Linked DNA regions of Homo sapiens. The protein of the gene in region 1 binds, or shares a complex with, the protein of each later gene. Each region holds a gene or a part of one and is shown on either strand. Other genes may lie near its edges. The genes, in order: MYO9B and RHOA.

What was found.
Region 2: the proteins of MYO9B (region 1) and RHOA are in contact, whole or in part, in a crystal structure (PDB 5HPY), measured with the Homo sapiens proteins. Residues at the interface, in NP_004136.2 of Homo sapiens: Glu1731, Gly1732, Arg1735, Lys1736, Ser1737, Gly1738, Ala1739, Ala1740, Arg1744, Lys1772, Gln1773, Arg1776, Arg1840, Met1841, Ala1845, Ile1848, Ile1849, Pro1852, Cys1853, Arg1856, Pro1863, Leu1864, Ser1866, Met1867, Val1870, Thr1874; in NP_001300870.1 of Homo sapiens: Asp13, Gly14, Ala15, Glu32, Tyr34, Val35, Pro36, Val38, Phe39, Gln63, Glu64, Asp65, Tyr66, Arg68, Leu69, Leu72, Asp90, Glu93, Asn94, Glu97.

Annotation. Positions count from the first base shown.
Region 1 is NC_000019.10:17,196,650-17,206,305, reverse strand, and holds part of MYO9B (unconventional myosin-IXb), read right to left. Parts: intron 8,515-9,656; coding exon 8,448-8,514; intron 8,123-8,447; coding exon 7,998-8,122; intron 6,014-7,997; coding exon 5,880-6,013; intron 5,668-5,879; coding exon 5,477-5,667; intron 4,381-5,476; coding exon 4,282-4,380; intron 4,177-4,281; coding exon 4,003-4,176; intron 3,465-4,002; coding exon 3,423-3,464; intron 3,160-3,422; coding exon 3,048-3,159; intron 1,044-3,047; coding exon 970-1,043; intron 347-969; coding exon 154-346; intron 59-153; coding exon 1-58. UniProt on the Homo sapiens protein: Myosins are actin-based motor molecules with ATPase activity. Unconventional myosins serve in intracellular movements. Binds actin with high affinity both in the absence and presence of ATP and its mechanochemical activity is inhibited by calcium ions.
Region 2 is NC_000003.12:49,372,297-49,381,952, reverse strand, and holds part of RHOA (transforming protein RhoA isoform 1 precursor), read left to right. Parts: intron 1-6,361; 5' UTR 6,362-6,363; coding exon 6,364-6,519; intron 6,520-9,656. UniProt on the Homo sapiens protein: Small GTPase which cycles between an active GTP-bound and an inactive GDP-bound state.

The DNA.
Region 1 (9,656 bases):
TTCAGCACCCCTGTGATGGCGTGGATGGGGAAGTTCTCCAGCTTGACTGCTGCGGGGTCTGTGGGGTGGGTGGGGTGGGTCTGGTGAGCGGCGCACTGGCAGGACGGCTGTGCCTGGGGCCTGGCACTGCACCCACCTGCCCACAGCGCCCACCTGTCTGCAGCGCCTGCCGGAGCTCCCGAGTGCGGTTGGCAGCACCCGACTTGCGGTAGAGGCCCTCGGTGTACAGGCCGTGCATCTCCACGTGTTCCAGGAGCTTCTCCAGCACGATGGGCACCGAGGCCTTGTCGCTGGTCAGGCTGTCTACGCACACGCCGAAGTGGCCAGGCTCAACGCCTGGCTCGCCCTGCAGTGCCGGGGTTGGGGGTCAGGTCTGGGCCTGGCTGTCTTCCTCTCCAGCTGTCTCTGGGGGCCTCTGCCTCCTGGTCCCGCACAAGGCCCTCAGGGCTTCCTCTGCTGTTCTGTCCCTCCCTGTCTCCTTCTGCGTGGTTGTTGGGGGTGTGGGGCTGCAGAAGTCAAGGCCAGCATGGCAGCCACTGGGCAGGGGCTTCCTTTGTAGGCCACCCAAGGCATGGGTGGTCCTTCGTGGGGAGAGAGCTATAACCTAGCCCCCACAGCCACCTCACAGAAGTAGACCCTGACTCTTGCTGCACCCCCAGCACCCAGGACCCCAACCTTATGCACAGAGTTGGGGGGCCTCCCTCTGCATGGCTCAGGACTCTCTCAGGAGCAAGGATGAGCAGGGCTGGGGGAGCTGAGACACACACACAGGCCTGGGCCCTGCCTGAGGGCCTCAAGGAGTTTGTACAGAACCGGGGACAATGGTGTGTTCTGCAGAACCAGAGGCCACAGCCGCCCCCTACTGGCTGCTCAATGCTTCGCTTGGCCCTCACATCAAGCACCACCTCCTGGTGCACCTGGCCGTGAGTGGAGTGTCATTGTAGAAAGTTCCAGGCCTCGTACACTCACCTTCCTCCCGTAGGTGTAGGAGCAGTGGCTCTGAATCTTGTGCACGCACTTCTTGTGGCAGGTCATCTTGCACACTAGGAGGTCCACAGGGTGGGAGTCACAGAGGGTGCTGGGGACCCCAGATTCCTGCAGCCACCCACCCAGCTGGCCGGGGGCCGCCAATTGCCTTCTTTTTTTTTTTTTTTTGAGATGGAGTCTCACTCTTGTTCTCAGGCTAGAGCGCAATGGCGTGATCTCGGCTCACTGCAACCTCCGCCTCCCGGGTTCAAGTGATTCTCCTGCCTCGGCCTCCCGAGTAGCTGGGATTACAGGTGTGCGCCACCACGCCTGGCTAATTTTGTATTTTTAGTAGCGACAGGGTTTCTCCATGCTGGTCAGGCTGGTCTCGAACTACCGACCTCAGGTGATCTGCCCACCTCGGCCTCCCAAAGTGTTGGGATTAGAGGCGTAAGCCACTGCACCTGGCCTGGATTGCCTTCTTTTTGGTTTCTCTTTTTCTTTTTGAGACAGGGTCTCACTCTGTCACCCAGGCTAGAGTGCAGTGGCACTATCATAGCTCACTGGAGCCTTGACCTCCCAGGCCCAGGTGATCCTCCCAAGTAGCTGGCACTACAGGCGTGCACCACCGTGCCTGGCTAATTTCTGTATTTTTTTTTGTATAGATGGGGTCTTGCCATGTTGCCCAGGTTGATTTAGAACTCCTGAGTTCAAGCGACCCTCCCGCCCCAGCCTCCCAAAGTGCTGGGATTACAGGTGTGAGCCACTGTGCCTGGCCTGCCAACTTCTAAACCCACACTGCAGGAACCTGTGCCCTGACTCCTGAGAGAGGAGGCTGTGTGGACAAACTTCATAGCTCCAAGGTGGCCATTCATGGCCTCAGACCCAGCCTGGCTAGCGGAACCATGAGCAGGTGTTTGTGGGGACCTGTGACATCCTTGCCCCAAGTCCCCAAGGCCACCTACTGGCAGAACTAAAGGTCTAAAGGTCCTGCCAGGAGGTGGCCTTGGGGACTTGGGACGAAGATGTCACGGGGCAAAGACAATGCTGCTTTTCCTTCTTCCAACCACACTGAATCCCAGGCCACCCAGCTGACGCCTTGCAGAGGGTACACTGGTTACGCTAAAGAAGAGAGTGTCTGGCACCTGGCAAGGATGGAATCAGGTGAGGGGACGGGCCTGGGTCCCGCATCCTTATCTCAGGACCATGACAACTGACTGTTGGACAGATGTGGGGTGGTGGGGCTGCCTTCTGGGCTGAAAAGACCCTGGCCCAAATGGTTCTGGCAGAAAAACACATGTAGGAGAGGCCCTCTTGACCCTGCTGGGCCTCTGGAGGCTGCCTGGGCTTGGGTACTGACTTGGCCATATCAAAGCTGTGTGAGCATGGATCAGCTGGGTCATTCCTGGGCCCTGTCTCTTAGGGTCCCCTGGGGCTGAGTCTGGCCTACAGGGGAGGGACCGTGAGGAGCCTGGGGAAGGAGGGGCCGATGGTTCAGGCGGTGGAGCAGCGTGTACAGAGACAGAGAGGCAGGGCCCACGAGGAGAGGAGGCTGCAGATGTGGGTGGGTGCTGGCTACTGGGGGCCTTGGGGCCAGCTGAGAATTGGGCTCTGCTCCTCCGGTGATGGTGGACGGTTTGAGGGGGTGGGATATGGCTGGGACAACGGTCCAGAAAGATCTGACCTGGTGGCTGGGCTGGGGTGAAGACCTTTTTTTTTTTTTTTTTGAGACAGAGTCTTGCTCTGTTGCCCAGGTTAGGGTGCAGTGGCGCGATCTCGACTCACTGCAACCTTCGCCTCCCAGGTTCAAGTGATTCTCCTGCCTCAGCCTCCCGAGTAGCTGGGATTACAGGTGCCCACTACTGTGCCCAGATAATTTTTGTATTTTTAGTAGTGATGAGGTTTCACCATCTTGGCCAGGCTGGTCTCAAACTCCTGACCTCGTTATCCACCTGCCTCGGCCTCCCAAAGTGCTGGGATTACAGGTGTGAGCCACCCCGCCTGGCCCTGAAGACCTCTTGAGCAGTGAGGGGTGGTGGGGGACATGGAGGGTTTTGGGGCCTGGTGGGGGAGCCACTCACCGCTGCAGAGCAGGGCCTTGTCCATGAGCCAGATATAGGAGAGGCACTGCTCGCACGACTGCGGGATGCTAACCTGGTAGCTGGCGAACACGTGCCCGTTGTGCTCCTGGACCTGTGAGGCCAGAGGAAGGCGCTGGGCAGGGAAAGGGGAAGGCAGCCCTCCCCAGCCACTGGTGGATGACGACCCATGGGATCTCAGGGGTGACTTATTCAAGACTACGGCTCCGTATATGCCGGGGGAAAAACACACTCACACGTGTCCACGCACACATACGCGTGCAGACGGGCCCATGCGCACATTGACACTGACACACACGTGCATGCTCCTGCCAATGTTCGCCTGCTCGGACTCTCATCTATGTGCAGCCTACTCACAGCACGCTCCTGCTTCCGCTTCTTCTTCTGAGCTTTGCTCTGCTGTGAGGAACACAAGGAGGAGGTTGGCGGGGGCCCCCCTGGGAAGAGCCCCAACCCACCCCTGGCACCCCATAACTCAGGCGTGTGGGTACCCTGAACCCTCCCTCACCTGGAGTGGCATCATTGTCCCTAACGCCCCCATTCAGACACCCCAGACCCAGAAGTGAGGCTCTGTTGGGGAGGGTGCAGGGCTCCCCACCAGGAGGTAGGTGTGGCACAAATGGGCACGGCATGGTATAGGTGGGCATGGCATGTAATCATGGCAAGGGATGGGTAGGCATAGCATGTTGCATGTCATAGGCGTGGCATGGCATGGGTGGGTGTGGCATGTCAGGTGGGTGTGGCATAAGTGATCATGGTGAGGCACAGGTAAGCATGGCATAAGTGGATCAAGTCATGGCACAGTGGCTGTGGTATGGGCAGGGCATGGGTGGGTGTGGCATAAGCATGGTGAGGCATGGGTGGGCGTGGCTAAGGATGGCGAGGCATGGGTAGGCGTGGCATGTCACAGGTGGGCGTGGCATGCTGGGCTGCCCACCTTCACTGGCTCGAAGTCGTTCTTGGTGTAGCCACGGGTGAACTCATCTAGCAGTGACTGGAAGAGGTTGAGGACCAGGTTGGTGTCCTTCTGGCCACGCTCAGTGGCCAGGTTGCTGACGACGATCTGGTAGTTCTCCATCAGATCCTTGTAGCCCACGTGGATCTTCCCGTTCTGTAGGAATGCTAGGCGTCACCCTGCAGGCCTGGGCAAGGGGCGGATGGGAATGACGGGTCTGAGCAGGGTATGGGAAAGGCTGAAGGCCGGGCCGCCACATACCGGGACAGAGTACATCGTTTTGATGTTGCTCCTGAACTTCTCGGTGGCTTCGATAAACAAGCTCTCAATGGGCGTCTTCTGGGAACGGAGGTCATTTATCTGGAAGGGGAGAGGAACTGACCCTGCGTGCCTCAGGCCTGGGGACCTGCGTACCCGAGGAGGTGCCCAAGGGGTCACTTCTATCCTCTCTTAAGTCATCCCCTAGGCTCTCGGGATAAAATCCAGTCCCTCTGGCCAAGCCTGGTCTCTCATCTTGTCAACCCAGAGTTAAAGCCACTGACATTGAGGGCAGGACTACTCTCCACATTGGGGCCTGCCCTGTGTACCACAGCAGGTTAAGCAGCATCCCTGGCCTCCACCCACCAGATGCCAACAGCGCCCTCCCCTGAGGCTGTGATAACCCCAATGTCCCCAGACATTGCCAGTGTTCCCTGGCGGACAGAATCCCCCCTAGATGAGAGCTACAGGTCAGTTCAGGCCCTTCCTGCTGCCCCACACAGGGGCTCAACACCCAGCCATACCTTAGGATGGGGATGCCTGGAATGGCCTGGTAATTTCAAGATGCCTCTACTCCTAGCAGGGTTTCCTGATCCTTCTGTGTCCCCATCGGCCCCCTGTGCCCGCTGTGCAGCTCCCAAATGTAGCTCTATCTGCTGCAGGATTGCCCACCCCCCACCCCCACGGGGTATAACCCTCCTGAGGGCAGCCACAGCTTGTTCGCCTCCACTTCTGTTGCACACAGTGCTTCATCAATCTTTGCTTTGAGACCAAATATGCATTATTATTTTTTTTGAGCCAGGGTCTTGCTCTGTCACCCAGGCTGGAGTGCAGTGCTGCGATCGTGGCTTGTGGTGCCTCGACCTCTTGGGCTCAAGCGATCTTCCTGCCTCAGCCCCCAGGAGCTGGGACTACAGGTGTGCACCACCACTCCAGCTAATATTTAAACCTTTTGTAGAGATGGGGTCTCTCTGTTGCCCAGGCTGGTTTTGAACTGCTGGGCCCAAGTGATTCTCCTGTCTCAGCCTCCCAGAGTGCTGGGATGACAAACATGAACCACTGTCCCCGGCCTGAGCCTGGACTTTGTATTCTTGACCTGCTAAACCCTGTGTTGTGTGTTTCAGAAAACAATGCCTGGCTGTGATGGTTCCCCTGGGGACCGGGCCTCATGCCCCTGGCCCTCGCCTAGTGATCCCACCTTGTTGAGCAGGAACTCGTCCAGGTACTTGAGCTCATTGGCGTTGGTGATCTGGCGGAACACCGATTCCCGCCACTTCTCTGACACTGTGATCTTCCCAATCTTGACATTTCGGTTCTTCTTCCCTTTGCCTCCTGGTTCCTTGGTGCGCTTCTCACCTGCAGCGTGGCGATGCTGCTGTCCGGAGGGGGCTGAGGGGGGACAGGAAGCAGCCGGTGAGGGTGGGTTCAGGGGGAGGATGCAGGGGACCTCCTATGGCACGCCTTTATCCAGGGCCAGAAACCCCTGGCTCTGTGCCTAGGGCTTGGCCCACAGCCAACTCAAGGCCCCGTTTGGGGACAGTGAATGTCCCCAGGGGCACTGGTGGCTCTACTGTCTGTCCCTGAGGCTGCAGGCTACCAACCTTCCAGGCCCTTCTTCATGGTGGTGGCTTCCAGCACCACGTGCCCGGACACTGCATTCTCCAGCTCCTCTGCGCCCTCCAGGCTGTATTTTTTATCCTTGGTTTTATGCAGAAAAAGCCTCTTAAACGTGGATCTGCAGGAGAAAGTACGTGGCTTCTTTTAAGTCTGAAATGAAAATGGACGTGAGGCCCAGCCTCCCTGTGACTGGACACATGGCAAATGCTCTATCAATGCCTGACTCAAAAAAGGATCTGGCCTGGCATGGTGGCTTATGCCTGTAATCCCAGCACTTTGGGAGATCCAGGCGGGTGGATCATCTGAGGTCAGGAGTTTGAGACCAGCCTGGCCAACATGGCAAAACCCTGTCTCTATTACAAATACAAAAAAATAGCAGGGCGTGATGGTGGGTTCCTGTAGTCCCAGCTACTTGGGAGGTTGAGGCAGGAGAATTGCTTGAACCCAGGAGGTGGAGGTTGCAGGTTGCAGTGAGCTGAGATCGCACCATTGCACTCCAGCCTGGGTGACAGAGTGAGACTCTGTCTCAAAAAAAAAAACAAAAAACAAAAACAAAAATGGATCTGGCTGGGTATGGTGGCTCACGCCTATGTAATCTCAGCACTTTGGCAGGCTGAGGTGGGTGGATCAGCTGAGCCCAGGAGTTTGAGACCAGGCTGGGCAACATAGCGAAACCCCTTCTGTACCAAAAATACAAAAAAAAAAAAAAAGAAAAAAAAAGAAAAAAAAATTAGCTGGGCATGGTGGTGCACACCTGTACTCCCAGCTACTTGGGAGGCTGAGGCAGGAGAATCGCTTGAGCCTGAGAGGTGGAGGCTGCAGTGAGCGGAGATTGAGCCATTGCACTCCAGACTGCCAGACTGGGCAACAGAGCAAGATTCTGTCTCAAAAAAAAAACAAACAAAAAAACAACACAGGATTATCTTATAAAGAGCAATAGCCCTTTCTTTGTACTGGCAGGGGAGTTATGTGAAGAAAGAAGGATACCAAACAGAAGCCACAGGGGGACTCCATTTTCTTTTCTTTTTGTTCCAGTTGGGGTGTGACTCAGTCTGGAGTGCAGTGGTGTGATCATAGCTCGCTACAGCCTCAAACTCCTGGCCTCACGAGCATGATCCTCTCACCTCAGCCTCCTGAGTTGTTGGGATTATAGGTACAAGCCATGCGCCTAGCTCATTATCTTTTTAAGTTAAAAAAAAAGTTTTTTTGAGACAGAGTGTCATTCTCTTGCCCAGGCTGGAGTGCAGTGGTATGATCACAGTTCACTGCAGGCTTGATCTCTTGGCCTCAAGGGATCCTCCTGTTTCAGCCTCCTGAGTAGCTGGGACTACAGGCATGCACCGCCCTGCCTGGCTAATTTTTGAAATTTTTTTGCAGAGACAAGATTTTGCCACGCTGCCCAGGCTGATCTTGAACTCCTGGCTTCAAGTGATCATCCCACCTTGGCCTCCCAAAGTGTTGAGATTACAGGCGTGACCTACTGCATCCATTCAGCCACGTGTCCTTTTAAGGGACAGAAGACAGAAGACACAGACACTGAGGGGAAGGCCAAGTGCCGATAGAGACAGAGATTAGAGTGATGGAGCCACAAGCCAAGGAACACCTGGAGCCCCCAAAAGCCAGAAGAGGCAGGAAGGATCCTGCCCTAGAGGCTTTTTTTTTTTTTTTTTTTTTTTGAGACGGAGTCTCCCTCTGTCACCCAGGCTGGAGTGCAGTGGCATGATCTCAGCTCACTGCAACCTCCACCTCCCGAGTTCAAGCGATTCTCCTGCCTCAGCCTCCCGAGTGGCTGGGATTATAGGTGCCTGCCATCATGCCCAACTAATTTTTGTATTTTTAGTAGAGATGGGGTTTCACCATGTTGGCCTGGTTGGTCTCCAACTCCTGACCTCAAGTGATCCACCCGTCTCGGCATCCCAAAGTGCTGGGATTATAGGCGTGAGCCACTGCCTGGCCTCCCCATTCAGTTTCTACTGAGCAAATGCCTTTGCGAACGTGCTTTGTAAACGTGATTGGTTTAGGAGGCCACACTGCTGCGAGGCCCTGGCAGGGACCCCGGGCATCCTCTGGTGGCCTGAGTTTCCCCCAAGCCCAATACTTACTTAGAGTCGACCTGAGAGCCCGGGGACAGCCCTGCGTCTGGGAGGGAGGATGCGTCGCCTGGCTTCTTCTTCTGGACAGCTGGCTTTTTCGCACTTCGCTCTCCGTCCGTGGTTTCTGCTGCAGGCTGCAAGACGGTGCAGTGGGGGGCTGCTAAGGAAAGGCTGGCAGTCCTGTGCTAGATGGGGAAGCCCCTGCAGGCATTTACACTCCATCCACCGACCTCACTTCCTGCTTTTTTTTTTTTTGAAACGGAGTCTCACTCTAGTTGCCCAGGCTGGAGTGCAGTGGCCTGGTCTCGCGAGGCTCACTACAACCTCTACCCTGCCACTGCGTTCAAGCGATTCTCTCGCCTCAGCCTCCTGAGTAGCTGGGGTTACAGGCAAGCGCCACCACGCCTGGCTGATTTTTGTATTTTTAGTGGAGACGGGGTTTTGCCGTGTTGTTGTTACCTGAGCCTTGGCCAGGGACGGGAGGAGCTTGGAGACGTCGCTCGTGGAGAAGGAGGTGCGCCTCTCCCTGCGAGATCACAGAAACATGGCTTTTACTGACTAGAGTGAGTCAGTGGCATTTTCTTGTCTTAGTGGTTCTTGGGTTCTCACTTGGGCAGTTCTGCCCCTGCCAGGGGACACTTGGCAATGTCTAGAGACAGTTTTGGTTGTCACCACTTGGGTGGGGGGAAAGGAGTGGGTGGGTACTTCTGGCCTCTGGTGAGTGGAGGGCAGGGATGCTACTCAATACCCTACAGAGAATGGTCTCCACCCCAGAGAGTGAGCCAGCCCCAGATGTTGAGTGTGGAGGGTAGGAAACCTTGCCTTAGCCCAAGAGACCCTGCCTGCCTGCCCATCTATCTATCTATGTATCTATCTATCTATCTATCTATCTATCTATCTATCTATCTATCATCTATCTATCCATCCATCCATCCTTCTACTCATTGACTCATTGTCTCTATCTTCCACCCATCCATCCTCTTTATCTGCCTTCCATCCATCTCTTCATCTGTCATCTCTATCTATCTTTTTTTTTTTTTTAGACGGAGTTTTGCTCTTGTTGCCCAGGCTGGAGTGCAATGGTGTGATCTCGGCTCACTGCAACCTCTGCCTCCCAGGTTCAAGTGATTCTCCTGCCTCAGCCTCCCGAGTAGCTGGGATTAGAGGCATGCGCCAACACATCCAGCTAATTTTTGGTATTTTTAGTAGAGACGGGGTTTCGCCACGTTGGCCAGGATGGTCTCAAACTCCTGACCTCAGGTGATCCACCCGCCTCAGCCTCTCAAAGTGTTGGGATTATAGGTGTGAGCCCCCGAACCCGGCTCTACCTATCTTCTACCCATCCGTCCCTCCATCATCTCTATCTTCCTCCCATCCATAATCTACCTATCATCTATCCATCCCTCCATCCATCAACTCTATGTTCCTTCCATCTCTCCATCTCTATCTTCCAGCCATCCACCCATCCTTCTGTCTGTCCATCCATCCATCCATCCACCCACCCAGCCATCCATCATCTCTACCTATCTTCCATCCCTCCATTCATTGTCTCTACCTACCTATCTTCCTTCCATCCATCTATCGTCGGCATCTATCTTCCTTCTATCCATAATCTCTACTTTTTTTTTTTTTTTGAGACGGAGTCTCATCTCTGTCATCCAGGCTGGA
Region 2 (9,656 bases), on another chromosome or scaffold:
CAGCCTCCTGAGTAGATGGGATTACAGGCATGAGTTGCCACACTTGACTCTAACTGGGGAACTTCACTCTCTGTCTTTTTTTTTTTTGAGACGAATTTTCGCTCTTGTTGCCTAAACTGGAGTGCAGTGGCACGATCTCAGCTCACTGCAACTTCCTCCTCCCGGGTTCAAGTGATTCTCCTGCCTCAGCCTCCTGAGTAGCTGAGATTACAGGTGCGGACCACCATGCCCGGCTAATTTTTCTATTTTTAGTAGAGATGGGGTTTCACCATGTTGGTCAGGCTGGTCTCGAACTCCTGACATCGTGATCCACAGGCCTCGGCCTCCCAAAGTGCTGGGATTACAGGCGTGAGCCACCATGCCAATCCTTTTTTTTTTTTGACAGAGTCTCACTGTGTTGCCCAGGCTGGAGTGCAGTGGCGCGTTCTCAGCTCACTGCAACCTCCGCCTGCCTAATTCAAGTGATTCTCATGCCTCAGCATCCTGAGTAGCCTTTCAGGGGTTACAGGTGCCTGCCACCAACCCAGCTAACTTTTTTTTTTTTTTTGAGACGGGGTTTTTCTCTTGTTTCCCAGGCTGGAATGCAATGGCGAGATATCGGCTTACTGCAGCCTCTGCCTCCTGAGTTCAGGAGATTCTCCTGCCTCAGCCTCTCGAGTAGCCGGGATTATGGGTACATGCCACTACGTCCAACTTATTTTTATATTTTTTGTAGAGACGGGGTTTCACAATGTTGGCCAGGCTGGTCTTGAACTCTGGACCTCAAGTGATCCGCCTACCTCAGCCTCCCAAAGTGCTGGCATTACAGGCATGAGCCATTACTCCTAGCCTTGACTGCATGCTCTTGTTTGAAGATATGCATTGAGCACATTTCCCTATCATCGATATGCTTCTTATTGTGCTTTCATGATTAGTAGTATCTTCAATTTACTCCCTTTTTGCAAAAAAAAAAAAAGTTACTAGATTTTGTAGATTTGGATAAAATTCTATAATATCTGTATCTATATATATACACACACACGTATTCACTGCTGTATGTAATATTGTCCTGAGAATTCACAAATGAGTAATGGCAGCACTGTCAGCCCTCTGAGTTTTTTTGTTTTGTTTTCATTGTTTATTTTTGTCGTTGTTTGCCCTCTGAGTTTTCTTCTGGTACCCCTGTGGATTGTCTTATCCATTCTGGTTGGGGAACATACCCTTTAGACAATATAGTTTTGATAATGAGTATTTATTATTATTATTATTATTATTATTATTATTATTATTATTATTATTTTTGAGACAAGAGTCTCTGTCACCCAGGCTGGAGTGCAGTGGCATGATCTTGGCTCACTGCAACCTCCACCTCCCAGGTTCAAGCGATTCTCTTGCCTCACCCCACCACGCCTGGGTAATTTTAATATTTTTAATAGAGATGGGGTTTCATATGTTGGCCAGGCTGGTCTCAAACTCCTGACCTCGTGATCTGCCCGCCTCGGCCTCCCAGTGTGCTGGGATTACAGGCGTGAATCACCATGCCCAGCTGAGTGTATATAATTTAGGATTAGTTTGACTATAGGTAACAGAGACTTGAAAAATACCACCTTAAATAAGACAGTCATTTATTTCTCATTCATATGGAAGAAACATGGAAGGTAGGCAGTCTTGGGGCTGAGATGGTGGCTCCCAAGATCACCTGAGATCCAGGCTCCTTTTTACCTTTTGGTTCTTCCAGCCCCACGGTATGGCATTCATTCTCACATACCAGGATGGCTGCTTAGAAACCAGCCCTTACTTTAGATTTAAGCAGCAGGAAAGGAGGAGGATAATAAAGACTTCCCTTTAAGAAAGACTTTCTGGAAGTCCCACAACATACTGCTGATTCTCACATCTCATGGTACATGGCCATGTCTCCAAGGGAAGCTAGGAAGTGTAGTCTACAACAAAGTACATAGCTAAAAATCGAAGTATGGTCTAGGAGGGAAGGGCGGGAATTGGGATGGTTGACCATCACTGTCTGCCAGATGGAAGGAATCTGCAGATTTCTCTCTTTTTTCCCCCCACTGGGGGCGAGAGTGGTGGTAACAGCTTTATTGAAATATAATCCACATATCTTACAATTCACCTTTTTAAAGTGTGAATTATATATACTGTGGGCTGGGTGCGGTGGCTCACGCCTGTAATCCCAACACACTGGGAGAGACAGGCAGGAGGATCGCTTGACCTCAGGAGTTTGAGAGCAGCTGGGGCAACGTGGTGAAACCCGGTCACTACTAAAAATACAAAAAATTAGCCGGGTGTGGTGGCATGCACCTTTAGTTCCAGCTACTTGGGAGACTGAGATTGGAGGTTCACTTGAGCCTGGGGAGGCTAAGGTTGCAGTGAGTGGAGATCGCACCACTATACTCCAGCCTGGGCAACAGAGTGAGACCCTGTCTCAAAATAAATAAAATGTGTGAATTATATATACTATAATCAATAGTTTATAGTATATTCATAGAGTTGTGCAGCCATCACCACAATAATTTTGGAAAAATCTTTTTACCTGAGAAACTCCAGTATTCCATTAGTCATTTTCCATTTCTCTCCACCCCCAAGTCCCTGCCCTAGGCAACTACCAGTCTATTTTCTCTTTCTGAATTTGTTTATTCTGGACAATTTTATATAAATGGAATCATGCATGTTGGTTTTTGTGACTGGGTTCTTTCACTTATATAACATTTCCAAGATCTATCCATACTATAGCATATATCAGTACTTTATCCTTTATCGCTGAATAATATTCCATTCCATTGTATGGATATATTATATTCATCAGTTGTTGGATATTTGGGTTCTTTACATTTTTTGACAATATATTATGAATAATCCTGCTATGAATATTCATGTAGAGGTACAAGTTGTTATGTGGACATATGTTTTTGTTTCTCTTAGATATATACCTAGGAATAGAATTGCAGGGTCATACCTACTCACATCCTTTGCTCATTTTTTAATTGGATTAGATTATTTGTCTTTTTATTATTGAATTGTAAGAGTTCTTTATTTTTTAATTTTTTCTATATACTGTATTTAGGCCTGGGGAGGTGGCTTATGCTTGTAATCCCAGCACTTTGGGAGGCTGAATCGGGAGGATTGCATGAGCCCAGGAGTTTGAGACCAGCCTGGGTAATATAGTGAAACGCTATCTGTATAAAAATTAGTCAGCTGTGGTGGCAGGAGCCTGGTAGTCCCAGCTACTGGAGAGGTTGAGGTGGGAGGATCGCTTGAGTTGAGCCTGGGAGGCAGAGGCTGCAGTGAGCCAATATTGCACCACTGCATTCCAGCCTTGGTGACAGAATGAGACCCTTTCTGAAAATAACTACATAATAGAGAAACACATAGATAGGTTAGATAGGTACATAGATTGGATAGATGCGTAGATAGATGGGCAGTGGCTCACGCCTGTAATCCCTCAGCACTGTGGGAGGCCGAGGCGAGTAGATCACTTGAGCTCAGGAGTTGGAGACCAGCCTGGGAAACATGGCAAAACCCTGTCTCTGCCAAAAATACAAAAATTAGCTGGGCGTGGTGGCGCATGCCTGTGGTCCCAGCTGCTGGGGAATTTGAAGTGGGAGGATCACTTGAGCCTCGGAGGTGGAGATTGCATTGAGCCAAGATCACGCCACTGCATTCCAGCCTGGGTGACAGAGTGAGACCTCATCTCAAAAAAAAAAAAAAAAAAAAAAAAGATAGATGGATAGATAAATAGCGTACTTCATGTCAGAAGGAGTTCTCTCTTTTTTTTTTTTTTTTTTTTTAAGACACAGTTTCACTCTGTTGCCCAGGCTGGAGTGCTCTGTTGCCCAGGCTGGAGTGCAGTGGTACAATCTGGGCTCACTGCAACTTCTGCCTCCTGGGTTCAAGCGATTCTCCTGCCTCAGTCTCCCGAGTAACTGGGATTACAGGTGCCCACCACCACACCCGGCTAAGTTTTGAATTTTTTGTAGAAACGGGGTTTTGCTGGGTTGGTCAGGCTGGTCTCGAACTCCTGACCTCAAGTGTTCTGCTTGCCTCAGCCTCCCAAAGTGCTGGGATTACAGGTGTGAGCTACCGTGCCCAGCCCAAAAAGAGTTCTTTATGATTTCAACCTTGCAAGAGATCCTGAGCCAGACCACCAACCTAAGCTGCTTTTTTGTAGTTGAGTCATAAGAGTTTGAGACAAGGTTCCACTCTGTCACCCAGGCTGGAGTGCAGTGATGCAATCATAGCTCACCACATCCTCCACCTCCTGGGCTCAAGCAATCCTCCCACCTCAGCCTCCTTGGTAGCTGGGACTACAGGTGCATGCTACCACAACTGGCTGATTTTTTTTTTTTTCTTTTCCTTCTTTTTTTAGAGACAGTGTCTCACTGGGGTTCCCCAGGCTGGAGTGTAGTGATGCAATCTCAGCTCACTGCAGCTTCCACCTCCAGGGCTCAGGGGATTATCCCACCTGAGCCTCCCAAGTAACTGTGATTAGCATGCACCACCGCTCCTGGCTAATTTTTTGTATTTTTAGTAGAGACAGGGTTTCACTATGTTTCCCAGGCTCGTCTTGAACTCCTGGACTCTCAAGCAGTCCACCTGTTTCGGCCTCCCAGATTGCTGGGATTATAGGCGTGAGCCACTGCGCCCGGCCCTTTTCTTTCTCCCCTCCCCTCTCATGCTTCCGTCCGTCCTTCCTTTCTCAGTGTCTCACTATGTTGTCAGGGCTGGTCTCTTAACTCCTGGGCCTGAGCATTCCTCCTGCTTCAGTCTCCCAAAGTGTTGGGATTACAGACATGAACCACTGTGCTCGGCCTCAATTGATTTTTCTTTTTTGAGACGGAGTTTCGCTCTTGTTGCCCAGGCTGGAGTGCAATGGCATGATCTCGGCTCACCACAACCTCTGCCTCCCGGGTTCAAGCGATTCTCCTGCCTCTTGCTCCTGTGTAGCTAGGATTATAGGCATGTGCCACCACGCCTGGCTAATTTTGTATTTTTGGTAGAGATGGGGTTTCTCCATGTTGGCCAGGCTGGTCTCAAACTCCTGACCTCAGGTGATCTGCCTGCCTCGGCCTCCCAAAATGCTGGGATTATAGGCGTGAGCCACCGCGCCCAGCCAAGAATGCTGTTTCTTTACAAACAAATCTAGATTGGTAAAAGAAGGAATATCCAAACTTAGAAAGATTGCAGAATGTCTACCCAAACAACCTGCCGATGACTTTTTTGGTTCTTTCCTCCCTTGGGTACTCCCTTTCATCAGTCCTTTCATTGTTTTTACCCTGCTTGACAAATTGTTTCCTTTTTTTTTTTTTTTTTTTTTGTGAGATGGAGTCTTACTCTGTCCCCCAGGCTGGTGTGCAGTGGCCCGATCTTGGCTCACTGCAAGCTCTGTCTCCTGGGTTCACGCCATTCTCCTGCCTCAGCCTCCCAAGTAGCTGGGACTACAGGTGCCTGCCACCATGCCCGGCTAGTTATTTGTATTTTTAGTAGAGATGGGGTTTCTCCGTGTTAGCCAGGATGGTCTCGATCTCCTGACCTCGTGATCCACCCGCCTCGGCCTCCCAAAGTGCTGGGATTATAGGCGTGAGCCACTGCGCCTGGCTCAATTGATTTTTTAATGTTAATATTGTATCCTGCAACCTTACTGAACTTGTTTATTCTAAAAGTTTTCTTTAGGATTTCCCACATTACAAAATCATCTCATGTGTGAATTGAGATAGTTTTACTTCTTCCTTTCCAATTTGGATGTCTTTTATTTCATTTTCTTACCTTATTGCCCTGGCTAGGACCTCCAGTATCCTGCTGGATAGAAGTAGCAAGAACAGGCCAGGCGTGGTGGCTCACGCCTGTAATCCCAGCACTTTGGGAGGCTGAGGCAGGTGGATCACCTGAGGTCAGGAGTTCAAGACCAGCCTGGCCAACAAGGTGAAACCCCATCTCTATCAAAAATTAGCTGGATGTGGTGGTACGTGCCTGTAATCCCAGCTACTTGGGAGTCTGAGGCAGGAGAATTGCTTGAACCCGGGAGGCTGGAGGTTGCAGTGAACTGAGATTGGGCCAGTGCACTCCAGCCTGGGCGACAGAGTGAGACTCCGTCTCAAAAAAAAAAAGAAGTGGCAAGAACAGACATTCTTGTCTTGTTCCTGATCTTAGGGGGCAGACCTTTTTTTCAGTCTTTTACCATTAAGTATAATGTTAGTTACGAGTTTTTAATGTATAACCTTTTGGTGCCAGGTGGATCGGCGTACTAGAAGTTTGAATTTGAGTATGCTAATAGAGGTTTATGCCCCATGGTTACCAAAGCATGTGTCATCCTGTAAGCTACCTATGACTTCTTGTGCATTGCAGGTAATATCTGTGTTTTGTGTTTCAGCAATGGCTGCCATCCGGAAGAAACTGGTGATTGTTGGTGATGGAGCCTGTGGAAAGACATGCTTGCTCATAGTCTTCAGCAAGGACCAGTTCCCAGAGGTGTATGTGCCCACAGTGTTTGAGAACTATGTGGCAGATATCGAGGTGGATGGAAAGCAGGTGAGTATACTTTTCATAACAACTGATGCCATTTTCCATGTTAGAATATTTATGGAGCATGTAGAGAATTAGAGCTTTTTGCCTCTTCAGTATACCATATAACAAAAATGTTGGAAAGAAGAATCCATTCTCATCCTGCCATCTTAGTCCAAGTTTGTTCTTTTTTTTTTTTTGGAGACGGAGTCTCATTCTGTTGCCCAGGCTAGAGTGCAGTGGCTCGGTCTTGGCTCACTGCAACCTCTGCCTCCCAGGTTCAAGTGATTCTCCTGCCTCAGCCTCCCAAATAGCAGGGATTACAGGCATGTTGCCACCATGCTGAGCTCATTTTTCGTTTAGTAGAGATGGGGTTTCACCAGGCTGGTCTCAAACTTCTGACCTCGGGTGATCCACCCACCTCAGCCTCCCAAAGTGCTGGGATTACAGGAGTGAGCCACTGTGCCCAGCCTTCCCCCAGGTTTAAAGGATTCTCCTGCCTCAGCCTCCCCAGTAGCTGGGATTACGGGAATATGCCACCACACCTGGCTGATTTTTGTATTTTTAGTAGAAATGGGGTTTCACTACGTTGGCCAGGCTGGTCATGAACTCCTGACCGCAGGTGATTGGCTGTTTTTTCATTTTTAACTGCTACTCATCCAGACTTTGTTTACATTCATATGTATTTGACATGGTGTCCTTAGCATATGTGTTTTTTTTTTGTTTTGTTTTGTTGTTTGAGACAGAGTCTCGCTCTGTCGCCCAGGCTGGAGTGCAGTGGTACAATCTCAGCTCGCTGCAACCTCCACCTCCCGGGTTCAAGCAATTCTTTTGCCTCAGCCTCCAGAGTAGAGTAGCTGGGATTACAGGCGCACGCCGCCATGCCTGGCTAATACTTGTATTTTGTAAAGATGCAATTTTGCCATGTTGGCCAGGCTGGTCTCAAGCTCCTGACCTCAGATGATCCACCTGCCTCAGCCTCCCAAAGTGCTGGGATTACAGGCGTGAGCCACCTTGCCCAGCCATATGTGCTCTTTTCAAGTTTACGTATATTTGAAGTTTAGTTCATTGCCATATAGATAATGCTCAGATGAACTTCTTTGTATGCTTGGACTTTGACAAAAATTCTGTCAAAGTATTTAATCAGATGTCCCAGTATTAGATTACTAGTTCAAGCTCTGCCTCCTGGGTTCACGCTGTTCTCCTGCCTCATCCTCCCAAGTAGCTGGGACTACAGGTGTCCACCACCAGACTGGCTAATTTTTTGTATTTTTAGTAGAGACGGGGTTTCACCGTGTTAGCCAGGATGGTCTCGATCTCCTGATCTTGTGATCTGCCCGTCTCGGCCTCCCAAAGTGCTGGGATTACAGGCATGAGCCACTGTGCCCGGCCAAAAGATTTTTTTTTACTTTAACATAAAATAGCCTGCCACAGTTGTTTTATTTTATTGTCATTGATGGTGAGAACAGTGCTTCCCCATTTCTGTCCTAAAAGCCCTCTGGCAAGACTGGAACAAAGCTCTTGTGAAATTGGAGGGTTTTTTTGGGTTTTAATTTTGGTTTTGGTTTGTTTTTGTTTTTTTTTTTAATCTTCTGCTTCCTTTTGTTGTCTAAGTAATGCTTTGCTTGGCCTCTCATACTTTTTTTTTTTTCTCTTAAATAAAGAGACAGGGATTGTACTTTGTCTCCCAGGCCTGCAGTGCTGTGACATGATCATGCAGCCTTGAACTCTTGGGCTCAAGTGATCCTTCCACCTCAGCCTCCCAAATAGCTGGCACTGTAGGTATGTGCCACCACACCTGGGTAATTTATGTTTTTAGAGATGAGGTCTTGTGTTGGTCCAGCTGGTTTCAAACAACTGGGCTCAAGTTCTTCCATCTCAGCCCCAAGTGGCTGGGCTTACAGGCGCAAGCCAGCGTGCCCAGCTCTCCTATACATCTTTTGAAGTGGGTCAGCTGAAAGGAAAAAACCCCTAAAACTAGAATGAGGTGCTCTTCTCCAACATTCTCATTTTTCTTGAGCATTCAGTTATATGTCTCATATGCTGCTAACACTTGATATATTAGCTTCCATTCATCCCCTTTCTCCTTTCTTACTTTGTTTTTGTTTGTTTGTCTAGAGACAGAGTCTCCCTCTATCACCCAGGTTGGAGTGCAATGGCATGATCTTGGTTTACAACAACCTCCGCCTCCTGAGTTCAAGCAATTCTCCTATCTCAGCCTCCCGAGGAGCTGGGATTACAGGTGCCTGCCACCAAGCCCAGCTAATCTTTGTATTTTTAGTAGAGACGAGGTTTCGCCATGTTGGCCAGGCTGGTCTCGAACTTTTGACGTCAGGTGATCCGCCCGCCTTGGCCTCCCAAAGTGCTGGGATTACATGCATGAGCCACCGTGCCTGGCCACTTCTACTTGTCCACATTACTTATTTCTTTCTGTCCTAGGGCCACCTAGCCTCCTTTTGTGGCACTGTGTGAGGAATGTGGGTTAGATCAGCTGCTCAGAACTCCAGGGTCCCTCATTGTAGGGCTTCCTGATAGTTGTTTGACCATCAGTAAGCTCCTGACCTTTGAGCCTTCCTCATTTGTAAAACGGTTTTTATAGGTGACATCAAGGTTCTGTGAAGTAACGGAAAATGTTTGGCAGCACCAAAGCGCTTTCTAAGAGATGAATACTGCCATGTTCAAAACCCTCTTTCATAGTTTGTAGTCCTTTTTTTTTTTTTTTTTTTTGAGACAGAGTCTCGCTCTGTCGCCCAGGCTGGAGTGCAGTGGCGTGATCTCTGCTAACTGCAACCTCTGCCTCCTGGGTTCACGCCATTCTCCTGCCTCATCCTCCGGAGTAGCCGGGACTACAGGCGCCCGCCACCACGCCTGGCTAGTTTTTTGTATTTTTAGTAGAGACAGGGTTTCACCGTGTTAGCCAGGATGGTCTGGATCTCCTGACCTCGTGATCTGCCTGCCTCCCAAAGTGCTGGGATTACAGGCGTGAGCCACTGCGCCCGTCCTATAGTTTGTGCTCTTTTTTATTCAAATACAGAGTGAGCCACGATGATTGCTCTTATGCTAATAGGAACTCTAAGATACTTTCTGGCCCAAGTATAGATGGAAAAAATACAACAAATACCAGCCTAACAGAATTTTGGGATGTACCCTGAAGGTGGCAAACC